Linked DNA regions of Homo sapiens. The protein of the gene in region 1 purifies or fractionates together with the protein of each later gene. This does not show direct contact. Each region holds a gene or a part of one and is shown in the gene's direction. Other genes may lie near its edges.

The links. The genes of interacting proteins can lie anywhere in the genome.
Region 2: the proteins of PM20D2 (region 1) and KIAA1671 purify together in Homo sapiens (affinity purification with mass spectrometry; 2 studies listed by BioGRID and IntAct, with this or other methods). This does not show direct contact.
Region 3: the proteins of PM20D2 (region 1) and PRIM2 purify together in Homo sapiens (affinity purification with mass spectrometry; 2 studies listed by BioGRID and IntAct, with this or other methods). This does not show direct contact.

Annotation. Positions count from the first base shown.
Region 1 is NC_000006.12:89,163,055-89,166,101, forward strand, and holds the end of PM20D2 (xaa-Arg dipeptidase), read left to right. Parts: 3' UTR 1-2,511; downstream 2,512-3,047. UniProt on the Homo sapiens protein: Catalyzes the peptide bond hydrolysis in dipeptides having basic amino acids lysine, ornithine or arginine at C-terminus. Postulated to function in a metabolite repair mechanism by eliminating alternate dipeptide by-products formed during carnosine synthesis.
Region 2 is NC_000022.11:24,947,757-24,955,742, forward strand, and holds the start of KIAA1671 (uncharacterized protein KIAA1671), read left to right. Parts: upstream 1-4,959; 5' UTR 4,960-5,016; intron 5,017-7,986.
Region 3 is NC_000006.12:57,376,621-57,383,656, forward strand, and holds part of PRIM2 (DNA primase large subunit), read left to right. Parts: intron 1-3,280; coding exon 3,281-3,376; intron 3,377-5,410; coding exon 5,411-5,548; intron 5,549-7,036. UniProt on the Homo sapiens protein: Regulatory subunit of the DNA primase complex and component of the DNA polymerase alpha complex (also known as the alpha DNA polymerase-primase complex) which play an essential role in the initiation of DNA synthesis.

The DNA of each region.
Region 1 (3,047 bases):
CCGCACCCGGCCTGCCAGTGTCTTTTTAATACACATGTGTGTTGGTATTTTTAAATTGTTACAGTATCTAGCATATTGCTTACTCTGAATATTCAGTACTTTTTGAATAAGCAAATATTGCTTCCTTGCTTGGAATCATCAGAGTTTAAAGTAGCTTCGTGGATGGACCATGATCCTAAGATGAGTTTTAATTTTGTGTTTACAGTCATCTCTTGTACAACGTGGAGAAGAAAAGATATACTTACTACTTTGCTTCAGGTACACATAAGAAAACCTCTTTTTTAAAAAAATTTTTATTTTTTTACATAATAGAGACAGGGGCTCGCTGTAGCTTCCAGGCTGGCCTCAAACTCCTGGGCTCAAGCAATCCTCCTGTCTTGGCCTCCCAAAGTGTTGGGATTTCAGGTATGAGACACCACACCTGCCCATTTTTGTTTGGTTTTTTAATGGGCAGGTTCTTGCTCTCCCAGGCTGGAGTGCAGTGGTGTAATCACAGCTCACTGCAGTCTCGAACTCCTGGACTCAAGCAGTCCTCCCACCTCAGCCTCCTAAAGCACTGGGATTACAGGCTTGAGGCACTGCACCTGGCCCTGACCATTTTTTAAAAAGGTTAGGCTTAGTGCAAAGTTTAAAATTATATGATTCTTAAAATACTGAATTAGTTTCTAAACTAAACTAGAGGTATAGGTGGACCTGCTTGAGGTATCTTTGTTTTTATGGAACATTTTTATTACATGCCTTTATAATTTTTCATTGTTCACACCCTGTACTGAAACCTTTTTCTCAAATACCAACTCTTGGCTATGTTAAATTTGTAGACTTTAAAAGATGTTATCTAAATTAATGGTTTAAATATACAAATTGAAAATATTTTCTTTTTAGTGGCAATTTTAAAAGCAGGCCTTAATATGGGACCTGCTTTTAAAGTAAAATATGTGGTACTATGAATTACTAAATTGCTATATACCATGTAATAGTGAGTATAGCTAATATTTAGTATGCCTTTTAAAAATTTTGGACTGCTTTTCGGTTTTAACAAATTCTCCACATGTGAACTACTCAAGAAATTTTCCCTTTTTAATTGCCTCTATAGCACTCATAAGAGCTAGGGCATTAGGATAAACTAGAATATTTTATGTTTATGAATACTTGTATAAACTTAAAAGTGTTTTGATTTCCCACAATTTCCCAAAGGAATGTTTATTTATTAAGAGTTGTGTTGATAATTTAACTGTTACAATTTCAGCAGTTGAATTCAGTGAACACTGGTTGAGGAGTGCCTATTTCTAAGCACTGGGTGTAAGAAGAAAAGACACTTGCAAAGGAAGAGCTAAGATTAACATAATTTCTTTGGTTTTTCTATTGCTTGTTATTATTATGTAAAAACTGGGTGGCAGTTCACAAGGAAGATTGTTGTAACAGAAGAGTGACAACCAATAGTTTTTTGATCATTAAATCAAATTTTGTAAACAGTGGCAGGAGCGTGGACTTAAAACAAGGCTTGCTTATTTGGTTTTGTCAAAGTTTTACGAAAATATATGATATATATTTATACTAAAACTATATAATCCTTAGATTTAGGAAAGCAATCAGTTAATGTCTTTAGCACACTAAAGCAGTATTAAACACAGGTACAAGTTGGAAATTGTAGAAAACTGAAAGAAAACAAGACAAAATGTCTATGGTAGGGAATAAAAGAGTTTAAGATATTATGTAAAATTATGTGTATTTTCTTCTCTTTTACATAAATTGTTTGTGAAAAGTGTGCTCAACTTTTTTACAAGAGTGATATTAACTTGGATTTATTTTTCAATATAATTTGGAGACCCTTTGTTATCCAAATAAAATTGATGAGTTTCTGTGCCTGTAAAAAAAAAAAAAAAAAAAAGAAAAGAAAAGACACTGTTGCATGCCCCAGAAAGCTTGTGGTGGGTGGTAAGTTCTCACGAGATTTATTTATCTGAGCAACATTGGGACTGAGGGAACATCTGAAAGCTACCATCTTGAAAATTTTTGAGGAAGTGTTTCTGAAATATTTAAAAATACTTAAGTCAGTCATTTTGAACAAAAGAAATTGATACAATAAGTTTTTTTTTTTAAGGATGATTGTCTAATTTTGTAATATGTTGTTTTTTAAAAACCTGTCTGATGGTGTTTTATACATTTCTAACTTTTTACCTGAGTTATCTCTTTAGTCTTTTGGAAAATACCCTACACAATACTAACCTTTAAAACTATCAAATTTTTGTTATAAGATAAATGTTATCTTTGTACTAGATAGCAACCCTTTATAAGGTTGTAAGGTATAATAAACTGCTTATTTTTTTACATACTTCATATCAAGCATTTTGCAGTCCAATTATATAGTTGAGGATGGTGTATTTTGATATGTATGAAGTTAATATTTTCAAGTAAGCAATCAGTCTACTACCATCAGATTATAAGCTTTTTTGTAATAATAGGTACATAAAATGTGTATGAAAAATCTACAATAAACATGTTTATCTGATAGCAATTGTCTTGCTTTTTTAATGACCTGAAGATATATGTACGAAGATGAAGCACAATCATCCAAATCCATTGTGATATACTATACTTTTTCTTACGCATCAGTATCATAGATGTTGACTTGCTTTTCCACTATGTGTCAAATATTTTAAAAGAACAATTAAGTTCTTTTGTTTAAAAATGAATGTTTCACTAGTCTCAGAAGCTAAAAAATTGCAGTGCAAATTGTACATGGCAGGAGGTAAATACATATAGTATTGAGTTTCCTTTTTTAAAAAAAGTTTACACATTTAATACAGAGTAATTCCATATAATAACATAAATGCAATGGAACAGGTTTTTGGATCCTGGCTAAAGTATAAGTGCCTCATATGAGAAAAGTCACAAATGTCCATGTTTCTTTGTTTAAACTGGTTTTTAATTTTTATTCTTATTTTTGGAGACAGGTTCTCACTGTCACCCCGGCTGGAGTACAGTCAGTGTTGTGATCATGGCTCACTGAAGCCTCATCTTCTAGGCTCAAGCAATCCTGCCTCAGC
Region 2 (7,986 bases), on another chromosome or scaffold:
ACACTATTGCAGCAAGTGCTGTGATTAACACTCAATGGACAAACTTGGGTCCCATGCCTACCACGAATCAATCACTGTGGCCAGGCAAATGGGATGCTCTGATTGGCCAGACCTACATCCTGTGTCCTAGGGTTGGGGGTTAAGGTTTGGAAAGTGAGGATCAAGTAAGGGTGTCGCGAGGCTTACCGCCCTTGAAACGACATGGACTGAGTGTAGCGGGTGGGATTCTTCCCTGGAGGAAAACGGAGATGCTGTTGGCAGAGGGGAGATGGCTGCTAGGAAGGTGAGAACAAAAGACATCGTCTCGGTGCACAGGAAATGCGAGCTTTTCCCTGTAGATTAACGAATGAGCACCTGGCAGTTGGTATTGCCAGAAGCAGGAGGTTCCCAGCCAGTTAGAGGCAGAAAATCTCAGTGAAGCCGTGTCTCAGGCTTCATTCAAGTCCCAGCTCTGCCGCCTCAGTCAGTGTGACCTGAGTTGGGGCATCACTGCCTCCTTGGCCTCAGTTTCTCTACCTGTAAAATGAGGGCGTCTGGAGTGGTGGCTGCCTGGGTTTTTTCCCCAGTCACTCATTCAATCATTCATATATTCATTTTTCCCCTTTCAATCAATATGTGTTGAAGGGCACTGGAGTTAGCCTAAACTGGATTTGGATTTCAGTTGTGATGTTTACTCGCTGTATCAGGCTTGACTGATGCACCTTCTCAGGTGTGCTCAGCTGCGTCCTTCCCAGCCAGCCAGCAGCTCTGGACAAGATCAAGCCTCCTCTTGCTTCCGCCTGCAGGCGGCTTGGGTCAGTTGCTGCATCTACTTAGCCACCTAGGCCTGCATCTCCCGCTGTCATTCAAGCAGACCTGACCTGCTTCAAGGGAGGGAGCCCTGGACCCTCCTCTTCTAGGCTCAGGTGAAGCCCTGTGTATGGAATTGGCTTCCCTTGGGGCTGTCTGGAGGCACAGATAACACAGTTGGGCCCAACAGTGACTAATCGTGGACAGAGGATGGGAGGCGCCAGCCGATGAAGTCCTCGCGCTTCCTTCATTCCTTCCATGGTCTGTTTCACGTGGCTTCTGTAGCCAGCCTAGTAAGGCATGTCTTATATTTGCTCTCCCTCCTCCCTTGCCTTGAAGTCCCCTTCCCTTCACCCTTACTGAGCTGGAATTTTATCCCTAATAAAGCATTAGTACATAAAATTTTCCTTGGGCTCTGTTTTCCAGGGAGCCAGGCTGAAATACTAGCTGTGTGACCTTGGGCAACTTACTTAACCTCTCTGAGCTTCAGATCCTTCATCTGTAAAAGGTAGATAATAATAGAGCATCTCAGCGGGGCACAGTGGCTCATACTTGTAACCCTAGCACTTTGGGAGATTGATGTGGGTGAATCGCTTGAACAAGGAGTTCAAAACCAGCCTGGGCAACATGGCAAAATCCCATCTCTACAAAAACACAAAAATTAGCCAAGCATGGTAGCGCATGCCTGTAGTCCCAGCTGCTCGGGAGCCTGAGGCGGGAGGATGGCTTGAGCCCAGGAGGGCGAGGCTGTGTAGTGAGCCAAGATTGTGCTACTGCACTCCAGCCTGGACGACAGAGCGGGACTGTCTCGAAAAAAATTAAGTAATAATAATAATAGAGCACGTCTTATAGGTTGTTGTGGAGTTTAATGAGATAGCACAGGCAAAATATTTGGCTGAATAAATGATAGCCTTCATTAGTATCATTACCGTGAACCAAACGCTGGATTCCAGCATGTGAAAACATTTATGCAACATTGAACTTCATGAATATTTATTGGGTGACAACTCTGTTTCAGGTACTATGCTAGTCTCTTCCCACAAGGACCTCACAGCCTAGAAAGTGAGTGAAAAGTAATTGGGCAATTACACTACAGTGTGATCAGAACTTTAATGAGTGCGGGCACCAGCCCCAGATTCTGCAACATCTAATCAGTTTTGGTGGTTGGGGATGGCTTCTTAGAGGAACTGATGTAGAAGCTAAGATCTGAGGGACATTTAGTTGTTAACTAGATGATGGGGAGGCAGAGGGCAAAGACTTCCTGGTGGGGGTAATGGCATGGGCATAGGACTAGTGTTGAGGGAAAACATTTCAAAGAACATACCGGCTCTCACACTCAACATGCAGATAAATTTTAGGAAAAACAAAATGGATAAATATGCACCAACGAAAATGCATGAACATGGTCTTTGCAAGGGGTGTGTGGGGTGTAGAGCTATACTGTCCAATATGGTAGCCAGGGCCACGTGTGGATTTTAAAATTTATACTAATTAAAATTAAATAAAATGTAAAACTTAGTTCCTCAGTCTCCCTGACCTCATTTTAAGTGCTCAATAGTCATCTGTGGCTAATGTTGGACAGTGCAGATATAGAACATCTCCATCGTTGCAGAAAGTTCTATTGGACAGAGCTGACACAGGCTAATCAGGACCTTCTGGAGGAGGGGACAAAAGACTGCGAAGAAAGGGTTCTGGGAAAATCCCTGGGAAGCACTGTGCTCTATTCTTAGAAAAAGAAAAGCCAGGGCTGGGAGTGGTGAGGTTGGGGGAGGGAGGGGTGTTGCCTCCGGAAACTGTACTACCTGACACCTCTTTGGTCAGGGTCTACCTCTGGGTATGTGCGAGCTGGCATCTCTCACCTAGGCGGGAAGACACAGGAATGCAGGGGGAACCAGCTAAGGTGGGGGCTGACCAGGAAGTCCTGCCCCTTCTGGGTCCAGGTTCAGGAGGACTCTGGGAGTTGTAGTTCAGCACCTCTGGAATCCCCTTAAAGCTTGACAGGGATAGAAGAGCTGACACCCGGTCTGGGCTGGGCATCTCTTGGGGCAGAGAGTAGGGTTGATGGTCAGGGCTGGGGACGTGTCTGGGTTTGAGTCTCCATGGGGGGTGGCAGGAGGAGGACTATCTTGTCCCCTCCCATCCTTATGTTCTGGAATGGAGAGGCGATGCCAAGGTGGAAGCCTGCATTGGCTGGGGAGCTGAGAAACATGGAACATTCCATTGAACAGAACCCCCAGCCTACGCATTCTGGTTCATGGAGATTTGCCCAGGAGAGACAGGAAGTTCCCATAAGGTTAGGGAGGAGGGGCAGCAGATGGCATGTCATCAGCTGTTGGTCATTCATGCACTCAGCATACATTCTTTGAGCACCTATTGTGTGCCAAGCCCTGTTCTAGGCACTGGGAATCGGAGGTGAAAGACAGACAGAAGTCCCTTCCTCCAGGAGGTCTAGAGAGAAGAGCAGACAATCAACGATTTTCCTTTGCTGGTATAACATACACGTCATGTAAAGGCCTGACTTACGTGGATTTTGAAGGATTTTAAGTTTCAACCCAGCCGTTCCTGGTCTCCTACTCACAGACTTCTCTCTGGAAGTGGTAGTTGTCTGTAAAAGCAACTGGGTTTGATCCTTTTGATGACTGTACTCAAGATACCCAGATGATAAGGAGAATGTCTTGAGACATGAGACCTCATGGGACCTCTGCCCCCCAATTCCTGGGTTCCAGCACTGTACACAAGTCAGTTGGGGGTTCTCGGGCTGCTGTTTGGTAAACAGGGTTTACCCTGCCTGGGTCTGATGGTGATGATCAGACCTTCAAAAGGGTTGCAGTGCAAACGGTGTGGAGAACAGGAGCTACCCTTGTTTCTTACACACACCCAACAATTTAAGAGCAAAATGAGGCAAGAAGTCTCCCCACCAATCCTCCTGAAGCCACACAATGTGATGTCTTTTTCTTTTTTTTTTTTTTGAGATGGAGTCTTGCTCTGTCGTCCAGGCTGGAGTGCAGTGGCGCGCTCTTGGCTCACTGCAATCTCCACCTCCCGGGTTCAAGCCATTCTCCTGCCTTAGCCTCCCGAGTAGCTGGGATCACAGGCATCCGCCACCACGCCCAGCTAATTTTTGTAATTTTTAGTAGTGACGAGGTTTCACCACGTTGGCCAGGCTGGTCTCAAACTCATGACCTCAGGTGATCCACCCGCCTCGGCCTCCCAAAATGCTGGGATTACAAGCCACCGTGCGCAGCCTGTGATGTCCTTTTCTTTCTCTTTTTTTATTGAGGTCTATCTTGCTTATAATAAAGGCACATTGATTTTAGGTCCTCCAGTTATTCATGCTCTGTACATTTCCCATAGGAGCACATGTCACAGATTCAATTTGATATACTCGTGAAATTATTTGTTTGAATATCTGTAAGCTGCACAACAGCCTGGATTTTGCCAGCTGCCCACCACTGGGTTCTCCAGCACCCAGCATGCAATAGGTGCTTAATAAAGATCTGCTGAATGAAATGAGTAACGGATAACAGAACAGGTATTTTCTCTTTCAGAGGCGACTTCCTACGATTCTCTCAACTTGTCCACAAGTTCCTGTACCCATTACCCCACAACTCACACCCACAACATAATGGCAGGAGGATGCGCACACAGTAGGCGCTCCAGCGAACTCTCAGGTGCAGTGCCCTTGCTTGGCGCGAGGAGGCGCCAGCACCGCGCACAGACCTTGCCCGCCCCCGGGCCGGCACCAGCAGCCCAGGCAAGTCAGTGGGCCCACATTTATGGAGCGCCTCCTGAAATCCTGGGTTGCATTAGGCTCTCGGGGTCGCCGGCTGGGCAGCGGGTCGGTGCCGGTGGCGGGGGATCCTGGCTGGTGACTGGGGAACATCCAGGGAACGCGGGAGGGTACCCGGAGCAAAGTTCCCAATTGGACAGAGCGGGGTCGGGCCTCGAGGGGCGGGAGCGCTTCCGGCAGGGGTGTCCAAGCGAGTCGTGACCTCTGACCCGCCGGAGAGGTCCCAGGCCCAGGCGCCACTGCGGACTCGGGTCCTGCCTGCTCTGCTCCCCTCCGCGCAGGCGCGGCCGGCGGCAGTTCCCATGGTGACGGGGGCGCGTCCCCGCTCGAGGCCCCGCCCCCAGCAGGCTAGGCTGCGCGGGGCTGCGGGCTCCCAGGGCAGGTGCCGCGGGCTGCGGGCAGGTGGCGGCGCGGCGCGGGCTGGCGGTGGCTCCACGGTAGGTTGCGCAGCGGCTGCGGGCAGTGGGGGCCGGCTGGCCGCCTCCTGTCCCCGGCCGACGAGGTAGCTGGGGGTGACGGCGGCTGGCGAGGGCCGCCAAGTTTCTGCCCGGCCGAGGCCCCGGGAGAAAAGTTGGCAAAGTTGGCCGGGGAAGAGGCGGGGAGCCGGAGGATTTCCCCAGACTCCGGGTCTGCAGGGAGGGAGGATCCCGGTTTGGGAGCCGGGGAATCCGTCTCCCGAGACTTGAGAGTGGATCCCGCGGGAAGATCCCGCACAGGGCAACCAATGGATCACGTGCCACCTGGTTGGCGACTTGGGAGTCGATCCCTGGAGGGGATCGGGCGCTGGAGGCCTGGGGTCCCACTGGATCCCCAGTCAGGGGTGACGGCGAAGGGTGATTCGAGACTGGGAGCGAGAGGATCAATCTCCTCCCATGCCAGCCTGAGCCTTGGGAATGGATTCAGAGAGATCCCGTGGCTAGGAGCTGAGGGATCGCTGGAGATCTGGGTTACTCAGCCTGGAGCTGCTAGGGTCTGGACATTTGTGCGGGTTGGAGGCCCCGGAGGTGGAAGTGGGAAGCAAGGGCGGCGAGCGAGACGGAACCCTGGTCGAGGGGAGCCCGGAGGACAGCGCGGTGGTTCGGGGGGCGTGAGAGGGGCGGCGCGCGGGGCCCCTCGGACGCGGAGGCTCCGGACACGTCCTCTCGGCCTGGCCTGCGCCCCCCCTCCGCTCGTCTTCCCAGGGCGGAGGCGCCCTGATGGGATTAAGCCTCAGTCCCCCTGTTACCAGGCAGGCCCGCGTGGTCCCCGCCCCGATGGCGGCGCGGCCCACCCGGGCTCACGGGTGGGGCCCTCGGGATGGGAAGCGGCTCGTTGACCCCCACCCGAGCCTGACCTTTTCACACCCTGCTGGCACAAACTCGCCTGGGAGTGGGGACGCCGCGCCTTAAAACCCTGCTGTTTGTCCAGTCCCGGAGCAGGCGTGTGACCTCCACCGCGCGACGCCTAGGTGGCTAGGGCTTCCTGCCTGCCGGGACTGAACTTTCTCTAGCCAGGAGCAGCCATTATCTTTTGGAAGGGAAAGGACTGTACCTGTTGCACAAAGAAAAACACTTTCTTTGCACCTTTTTTGTGACCTTGGGCAAAACACTTAACCTATCTGAATCCAGATGGGGACCCTCTGGGCAAAATGGGCTTGGCCTAGGATGGATCGGAATGAAGGGTATGAAACAGGTAGGGGCTCTATAAGTATCAGTGCCTCCCTCAGTCTATGGCCTCTCCTTTCCCGTGCCCCATCCCCTGTGCTTGCCTTACAGTATCTAAAGATTCCAGAAACCCTACTTGCTATCTTTTGAAACCGCAGGATTAGAGAGCTATTTAGCTTAACCTTTCTTCCAAATGGGTTAATTGCCCCTCTGATCCCCCCTTGCAGAGAGAAGCTCTGAGGTTTGGCTAATGAGTAACCAAGACATTTGGACAAAGCTTCTCCCTTGGTCTGGCTTTCCCTCTGCTAATCCATCAAGGTTCCTGGACAAACGTGTGCACCCCCAGACTCTGGCGCCTCCTTCCTTCCTGTTGCAGCCAGGGACAGTTCCCGAGGAATTTGTACAGACACAAGCCCAGATCTTGGTGGTTCTGGCAGGGGGATCCTTTTTAAAGGATTTGCATGCTTGACAAGGGTGCAATTACCCAAGAGAAGTGCAGAGTTTCAATGCAGTGTCTGGACATACATTTCAGCTGGGCACATGAACTGGCTGGCTCCATCAACCAGCGTGTATTGAGCACCTATGTCAGGAGCACTGTAGAAATGGTGTGGCCTAGGGCAACTCAGGATTTGTCCTCTTGGAGTTACTTTCCAGCTATGGAGCAGTCGGCTTGCCCTGCAGTCTAGTACTGATTCTTGATGTTGGGGATACAGTTCTCACCCTAGGTTCAGAGGCTGGAAGCTGCCCCTACCCCCACTGGAGGTCCTAGGGGCTGCTTTTTTTCGTTTGTTTTGTTTTGTTTTGTTTTATTTTGTTTTTTGAGATGGAGTCTCGCTCTGCAGCCCAGGCTAGAGTGCAATGGCGCGATCTCGGCTCACTGCGACCTCTGCCTCCCGGGTTCAAGCAATTCTCCGGCCTCAGCCTCCAGAGTGGCTGGGATTACAGATGCCCGCCACTCTGCCCGGCTAATTTTTGTATTTTTAGTAGAGATAGGGTTTCACCATGTTGGCCAGGCTGATCCCAAACTCCTAACCTTAGGTGATCCTCCTGCCTCCGCCTCCCAAAGTGCTAGGATTACAGGCATGAGCCACTGCGCCTGGCCGGGGCTGTTTTTTATTGAAGGCTGACCTTGGCAGGAGAATGAAGGAGCCAGTTGTCTGGCTCTGAGCATTTCTCCTCACCAGGCTACATCTCTGACCAACTCAGAAACAGAGCCTCACAGGGATATTTTATATGTGCATTCATTCATTTATTTATCATTTGTTCCTTCAACAAATATTTCAAGACACTGTGTCAAAGATGAGGCTAGCAGCCACATCCTTAAGGGGATACTTTATGCCCTGAAAGTCTTTGTGAACATATGCATTTGTCTGGAAGGGGAGAACTATGATCATAGGAGGAGGGGCTGATGCCTTTGGCTATAAGGAGGGATGCGGGTCAGAGAGTTTAGTTTTCTCGACAGCCAGTGGGAAGAGGTTGGTGTTATGGGCTGCAGAAATGGAATAGCTTGTGCAGAAGCCTGGAGGTAGGTGAGTGCCTAGGGTGTTGACTGGGGCCAGGCCAGCCATGCTTAGTGGTTTGGACTTTATTCCTGGAGCGTGGGGCGCTGTGGATCACAGTGGAAGGGTCTCTGCAGGTGAGGGGCAGGGTCAGATGTGTGTTTTGGGAAGCTTGCCCTGGCTGGTGTGGGGAGGCTGGATGATCGGAGGGTCATGCCAGGAGGCTGGGGGCCAGTAAGCAGGCTGCTAGAAAAATCCAGGTGAG
Region 3 (7,036 bases), about 32 Mb from region 1:
TTGAATCTATAGGTTAATTTGAAGAGATTTGAAACATTTACAATATTAAGTTTTCTGGTTGATGTTTAGGGTATCTCTGTTAATTAATTTTTCTCCAGTTTCTCTAAGATTTTATATTTTTGTTGGTGAAGGCCTTGCACATATTTTGTTAGATTTATTCCTAGATCCTTGATAGTTTTAATTCTGTTGTAAATTGTAGCTTAAAAAATTCCCTTACTGAATTTTGTTGCTGGCATATAGAAATACAATTAGTTTTTCTATATTTTTTATTTTTTGAGACCGAGTCTCGCCTTGTCGCCCAGGCTGGAGTGCAGTGGCACAATCTGGCTCACCGCAACCTCCACCTTCCAGGTTCAAGCAATTCTTCTTCCCCACCCTCCTGAGTAGCTGGGATTACAGGCGTGCACCACCATGCCCAGCTAATTTTTTTTTTTTTTTTTGGTATCTTTAGTAGAGATGGGGTTTCACCATGTTGGCCAGGCTGGTCTCAAACTCCTGACCTCATGATCCACCCGCCTCAGCCTCCTGAAGTGCTGGGATTACAGGTGTGAGTCACCGCACCCTGCCGGTTTTTCTATATTTGAATCCAGAAACCTGACTCAATTAGGCCAATAGTTTTAATAATTTGTCGTGGATACTTCTGGATTTTCTAAGTATACTAAATCATATAATCTGCAAATAGAGTTTTAGTTCTTCTTTTTCAATCTTGATACTTTTTTGTTCTTACCTATATTGTTTTTATTCATGGAGTCTCATTTCCTGGTGTGCTTTGTTACTGTTGTATGCTGGAGATTGTGTTTCGAAAGTTATGTGTGGACTATATTGAAGCTTAGGAGGATTATATCTTTCTGGAAGGGTTTTCATTTGTTTTTTTTTTTTCATTGGCCTGGGGTCATTGCTGGTCCAGGCTAATTTTAATTTAAATCTGGGATCTGAGATCTCAGAATCACTAGATAAGTTGAAAATGGGTTGTAGATCCATGTGAAGGCTGATAAGGTTCTGGTTCATCCTCAAGTAATTGTTCACAGCTACAGGAATTTCAGGGGTTTCTTCCTGACTCCATTGAGTTTTAAATTTCTGTGCCTAAATTTTTTTTGTCTATTTCTAGAAATTTTTTTTTCTTTTTCCTCTTTTTCCTTATATAGGCCTAATCATCTCTGAAATGTCATTTCTTACATTCATCTAAATGTGTGTTTGGAACCTGTTTAATAAAACACAGGTTTCATTTAGTGATATAAAACAACACATCACAAAGGTTTTGTGCACATTGCTTGATTTTAGGTCTTAGGGCTGGATGTTTGTATGTTCCTGTAAGGGCTCAACGGGCTCAGAAATGTCATTTCTTAGATTCTACAAACTGTGTGTTTGGAACCTTTTTAATGAAAACCCAGGTTCCATTCAGTGATGTAAAACAGCACATCAGAAAGCTTTTTCTTCTTCTTCTTCTTTTTTTTTTTTTTGATAATGGTTTGCTGTGTCACCCAGACTGGAGTGCAGTAATGTGATCATGGCTTACTGCAGCCTCTAACTCCTGGGCTCAAGCAATCCTCCCACCTTAGCCTCCCAAGTAGCTGAGATAACAAGTGTATACCACCATACCTGGCTAATGTTTTAATTTTTTTTTTTGTAGAGATGGGGTCTCACCGTGTTGCCCAGGCTGGTCTCAAACTCCTGGATTCAAGTGATCCTCCCGCCTTGGCCTCCAAAAGTGCTGGGATTATAGACGTGAGCCACCGTGCCCAGCCTTTTGCTTTTAAAAAAAAAATCACTTTTTATAGTTTCCACTTCATACAGATTGTGCTTGTCTTTTATTTCTGTACACATGGTAGCATAGTTATTATCTGTAAACTTTGTGAATTCTTCCCTGTTGTTTTTGTTCGTGAAGTATAGTTTTTTTCTATACCTTGTTATAAAATACAACGTGCTTGACATTGTATTTGGAAATTTATTTGTAGGAATACTTTGAGGTGTAATGTGAAGGTTCCTCCAGAGAGGATTTGAGTTTGCTTTTGCGAGGTGCCTGGGCATTTGAATCAGGTACCGCCTTAAAACAAGTTCAAGGCTTGGGATTCCCTGATATCCTACATCATTTGAGCAGGAAGGTCTCTCGTCAGATATCCCACTTTGTGTGGGCCTGACTTTGTATATTAACTTTCTGTGCTGTAAAGATGTTTTAAAAATTTTATCAGTGTTTTGTTTTGTTTTGTTTTCTCTAGGAGGTTGACCCAAATAATATAGCCTGTTTTACTGAAACAGCAAGTTCTACTGCAGTTTGTTTAACTAGATACATGTTGGACATTTAGTTTTTTTCTTTATTATTATAAATAACACTGTAATAAAGAAACGTTTTTATTTGTGTGCTTGTCCTGTTATTTACTTGTGATTAATCTGAAAATAAAATAGTTACAATCTGCATTTTTAAAGGCTATTTGATATGTATTATCAAAGTATGGTACACAAAGATTGTCCTAACACTGTGTATTCTAAATCTTTTTAACTTTTACCATTTTGATAGATGGAAAATAGTACACATTATTATTTTAATTTAGCATTTATTATTTTTACTTATATAACTATTGGCTGTTCATGTTTTACTACTTTTGGGTTATGAAAGCTTACATACTGCCAACTAGGGGCTTACTGAGGCTAACTCACACATCAGATGATGTAAATATTTCCCTCAGTTTGTCACTTATATTTCATCTTCATTTACAAAAATATATATATGTTTTGGTATAGAAGTTTAACGCTTGTACTAATCAGATCTATCAATTTTTTATAAAGCCATAATCAGTCTGAGATAATAAATTTATAGTTGTTCCTAGAAAAACTAGTGTTTTAAGTTTGGAATTGTCTTATGTGGCTAGAAAATTGAGAAATAGTCAAACCACTCTAACCTCAATTAGGATATTTTAATATATTAACATAACTCAAATTAGGATAATGCTCATTTTTAGTCTATATTAACCTGAGTTTTTATGATAAGTTTTTTCCTTTTTCTCATTAAAATATTTTCTCTTTGTCTGCTACTGTTCTTTTGATGTATACCTTCAGAAATTGGCAGGGTTGAAATTTGAAAGAATATTCAATTTAGGTTTTTTTCTGTATTTTGCCTTCACTAATGATAGTGATTCAGATATCATGTTAGAAATGATTTGAGATATCAAGGTTTTAAAATTTTTAATAAAAGTAAACAGTATTCATTAAAACAGGAAATCATTTTATTGAAACTGAATGAGGACTTCAAATTTTTGTAACAGCTTAAAATATGTTTTTTTAGATAAGTGATGAAGAGAAGACTCTTCGAGAACAGGAGATTGTTGCCTCATCACCAAGTTTAAGTGGACTTAAGTTGGGGTTCGAGTCCATTTATAAGGTATGTAAACATGTAAAATACTTCCTAGGTTTTGTTAAATATGTCGCATTGAGCTTTATATACATATTTAATTAATCCATTTTTATAGCCTCTCATCATCACAGCTACTCTGTCTCCTGCACAGATACTGTCCTCATTGCACTAATGGTGTGCCAATGTTCTCTCCTGGGCTGTCTCCTTCCACGGACGCATTCCCAACCCTGCTTGGGCTCTGACCTCCCATTACAGGCTGTTTTCCTAATGGAATACCCTCCTTGCATTGTTTGGGTTCTTACACCCTGCACTGGGCTATCCCCTGCCAGGAAACCCTCATCACCCATTTGGCCCAACACTCTGTTTGGATTGCTGCCTTGCGTGGAAGCCCCCTTTCGCTTCTCTTGACCTCTGACATCGTGGTGTCTTGCCTCATGGTCTCTCTGTGATTCCACTGGGCTCTGACATTGTAAGCCTACGTTTTTTCCTATGGGAATGCCCTCCTTAACCTACTCAGATTCCATCATCCTGTGCTTGGCCACCTCAGTTTCCCCTCCCCACTCAGTTCAGATAACTACGTCACATGAACCCTTCCAGAAGGGGAAGAGGGAAGAGTTTAAATTCATTTTACAATTTGATAACTGCAACCCCACAATTTCCTTTGAAAAGAATGTGCTAATTATTATGAGTGAGTGCCAGTAGTTTAAAGTCCTGCCCCATTCCAGCTTCTTCGTTTCGACTGTTGGGCCATCATTCAGTCAGCCTTTCAAGCCTAGAGTGTGGTGATCAATATTTATTTCTCTTACACCACACATTTCCAGTTACTCTGCCTTCACATCATCTTTTGCTTCTACTTGGGCATTTTTGTTTCCACTGTGACCACCTTAATAAGCTAGAATCATGAAATACTATGGCTAAAGAATCCCTAAGGGTCAGTTAGCCTGTGTCTTCCTCCCCTCTCTCAGCTTTACAGATCTGGCTGCTGAGATTTAGAGGCATTCATTAAATTCACCAAATAAGTCTAGTCAGTATCAGAGCTTGGACTAGAACTCATGTTTCTTCCCTATATTATTGCAGTAAACCCTCTTACCTGCTCATCTGATATGTCCTATGTAAGCTACCTATTTGGTGCAGTATCACACAATTTACCCTGTAGGTCTGTTTGACTTTCCGTGTGTGCCCATGAGGGCAGGGACTGTGTTGCAGTTGTAGAAATAGGTAAATTAATTGAAAGTTGTTAAAAAGCACATGATCTGTTTATAGTGTGAGATGTCGTTGGATATACAGAAAATTGTATGCATTTATATTTAATTCTTCCTTAAAACTTGAATGAATAGGCAATTTGGGAATCATTTTTCACCTAATTTTTTAACCTCGTTTTTTAAAAAAGAAAAATTCTATTGGAGAGTAAGAATGATTTTTACAGTTTACTAATATCATACTTCGCTCATCTCTTAGAATTTTAAGATTGTTCATAGGGTTTAAAAATCTAAGATTTTTAAAAATAAATTCTTGGGGCAAATACTTCTTTTAATAGCAAAACTGAATGCTTATTATTTCCATTTCTTAGTACTGAGATTAGCTTTTTCAGTATATTTCTCTGGAGTGAGAATGGAAACATACATGAAGAAATTGGAATTTACTTACAAGTAATTTTCAGCTCTGAATATGTTGTTTACAAATTAGGATTCTCTCTGATGCAGAATACAAAGTGGGATATGTGAGGTGAATGCAACATGTGTAGAAGTCTTGAGTTAAGAGTTTGAAATCCTGGGGATTATGTTTTGTAAATTCAGAGGTTAAGGAATAAAAGTAAGCATTCCAACTTGGCCTTTTAGTGTTACTATTTTTCAAAACATCAACTCTGAAACGAACATATTTTTGTACTGCCACTGTTTGCTAATGCTGTTGAGTTTTAAGGAGGATAAATTAATCATTTTGATATTCTTTTGGCTCTGCTAGGACTAATGAATTTCTTTGTTTATACTTTATACATATGAAGACTTAGGATTTCTTAATGACAGGTGCTGACTTATTTTGCCTGTTTTACTCTTAATTCAGATCCCTTTTGCTGATGCTCTGGATTTGTTTCGAGGAAGGAAAGTCTATTTGGAAGATGGCTTTGCTTACGTACCACTTAAGGACATTGTGGCAATCATCCTGAATGAATTTAGAGCCAAACTGTCCAAGGCTTTGGCAGTGAGTATTTTACTTGATTTCTGTATCTGACATGTTCACACTTTCAGTTATATACCCCTGGTAGTTTTATTCTGTGTTTCTCTAGGAAATAAGTTAATTCAGTTTTCATAATGATATTCAGATTACATATGATGTTGTACTGTTAATCCCAAAATTCCTAGGTTTTTATTTGTTACTATCCATAGTTGGTTTTTAAGTTTTTTTTCTTGATCCTACTAATACCAATGCTGAGTGATTAATTTTGTGAGTAACCTCTGTGGGTTTCTTCATGGTCATGTCTTTTTTCCTTAGAAATAGACTTCGTATATGGCTCTTAACAATTAGTGTGGCCTGTGGTAGATATAACTCCTAGATTTCTGTTCTGAATTAGTATTTGGTATCAGTAGAAGACAATATAGAAGAAAATCTTAAGTACTAACACTGTGATATGCTAGTGCTGCAATGAGTAGCTCCATACTGGGTGAATTTGGAGGTAGCTGTGTTGAACAAATGACATGATCAGTGATTTTTAAGTAGTTTGTTGGAAGTGTGACTCTTAAGTGGTGATATCTTAAAACTATACACATTTTTATATGTAAAACACATATTTTACAGTTGTTGTCTCTTAATCTGAGTCAGTTTTTAATACTTTTTTTGTACCTAATGCAGAAGAAGACTTCAAAGGTTTGTGACATGGCTGTTTTAAACTGTACTGATTATAGTGTAAGCATATGCCAAGCTTTCCTTCTCAGTTAAAAATTGTAGTATTTTCTGATATAAATAAATTTTTATTGACTCTCTGGGGTTACCTAAATATGTATAATTTAGCTATGTCAGCACTTGGGAAGACTAAAATACTAACTCTGTGTTTATTAAATGAAGGAATTTATGAGAACACCTAGCATAACAGGTATTTAGTAACTGTTAATATTCTTTCTCCATTCCTAATCCTGTTATTTCTTTATCCTCATGAAAGTTGATGCTTTTAAATTTTTTCTTTACTTGTCTGTCACTACCCTAGATTATATTCTAGTTACAGCTAAGAATAGTGTCTTTCACCACTGTGGAAGACACTGATACTTGTCTACTGTTTGGCCATTGCTCTTTTATTATTCTTAGTTTTATTCACCCATATTCTCTCTGTTGACATTTTAGACCACACTTCTTTGTGTGAAATAGACAAATATTTTCCAGCATATTGGATAGTTTTAGCTGTCATCTATTAAATGCTGGTGGTGGACCCCAGTCTCCATGACAACCAAAAATATCACCGTGCATTTCAGAAAACTTCTGGCATGTTAATGCTACTATTAATCTGATCATAGTCATTTCCTTCTTACCAAATTTTTAATTTATGCCTGTGACAATGTCATTGTGGCTAAAAAGTATGAGTTCTTTGGGGGCTCCTGAAAAAAGTTTTTCTTGCTAAAAAAAAAAAAAAAAAAAGGCATGTGGGATGAAGTAGTCTTTTTTTCCCCCCTCTGGATATTGTTGTAACTGAATGTGATG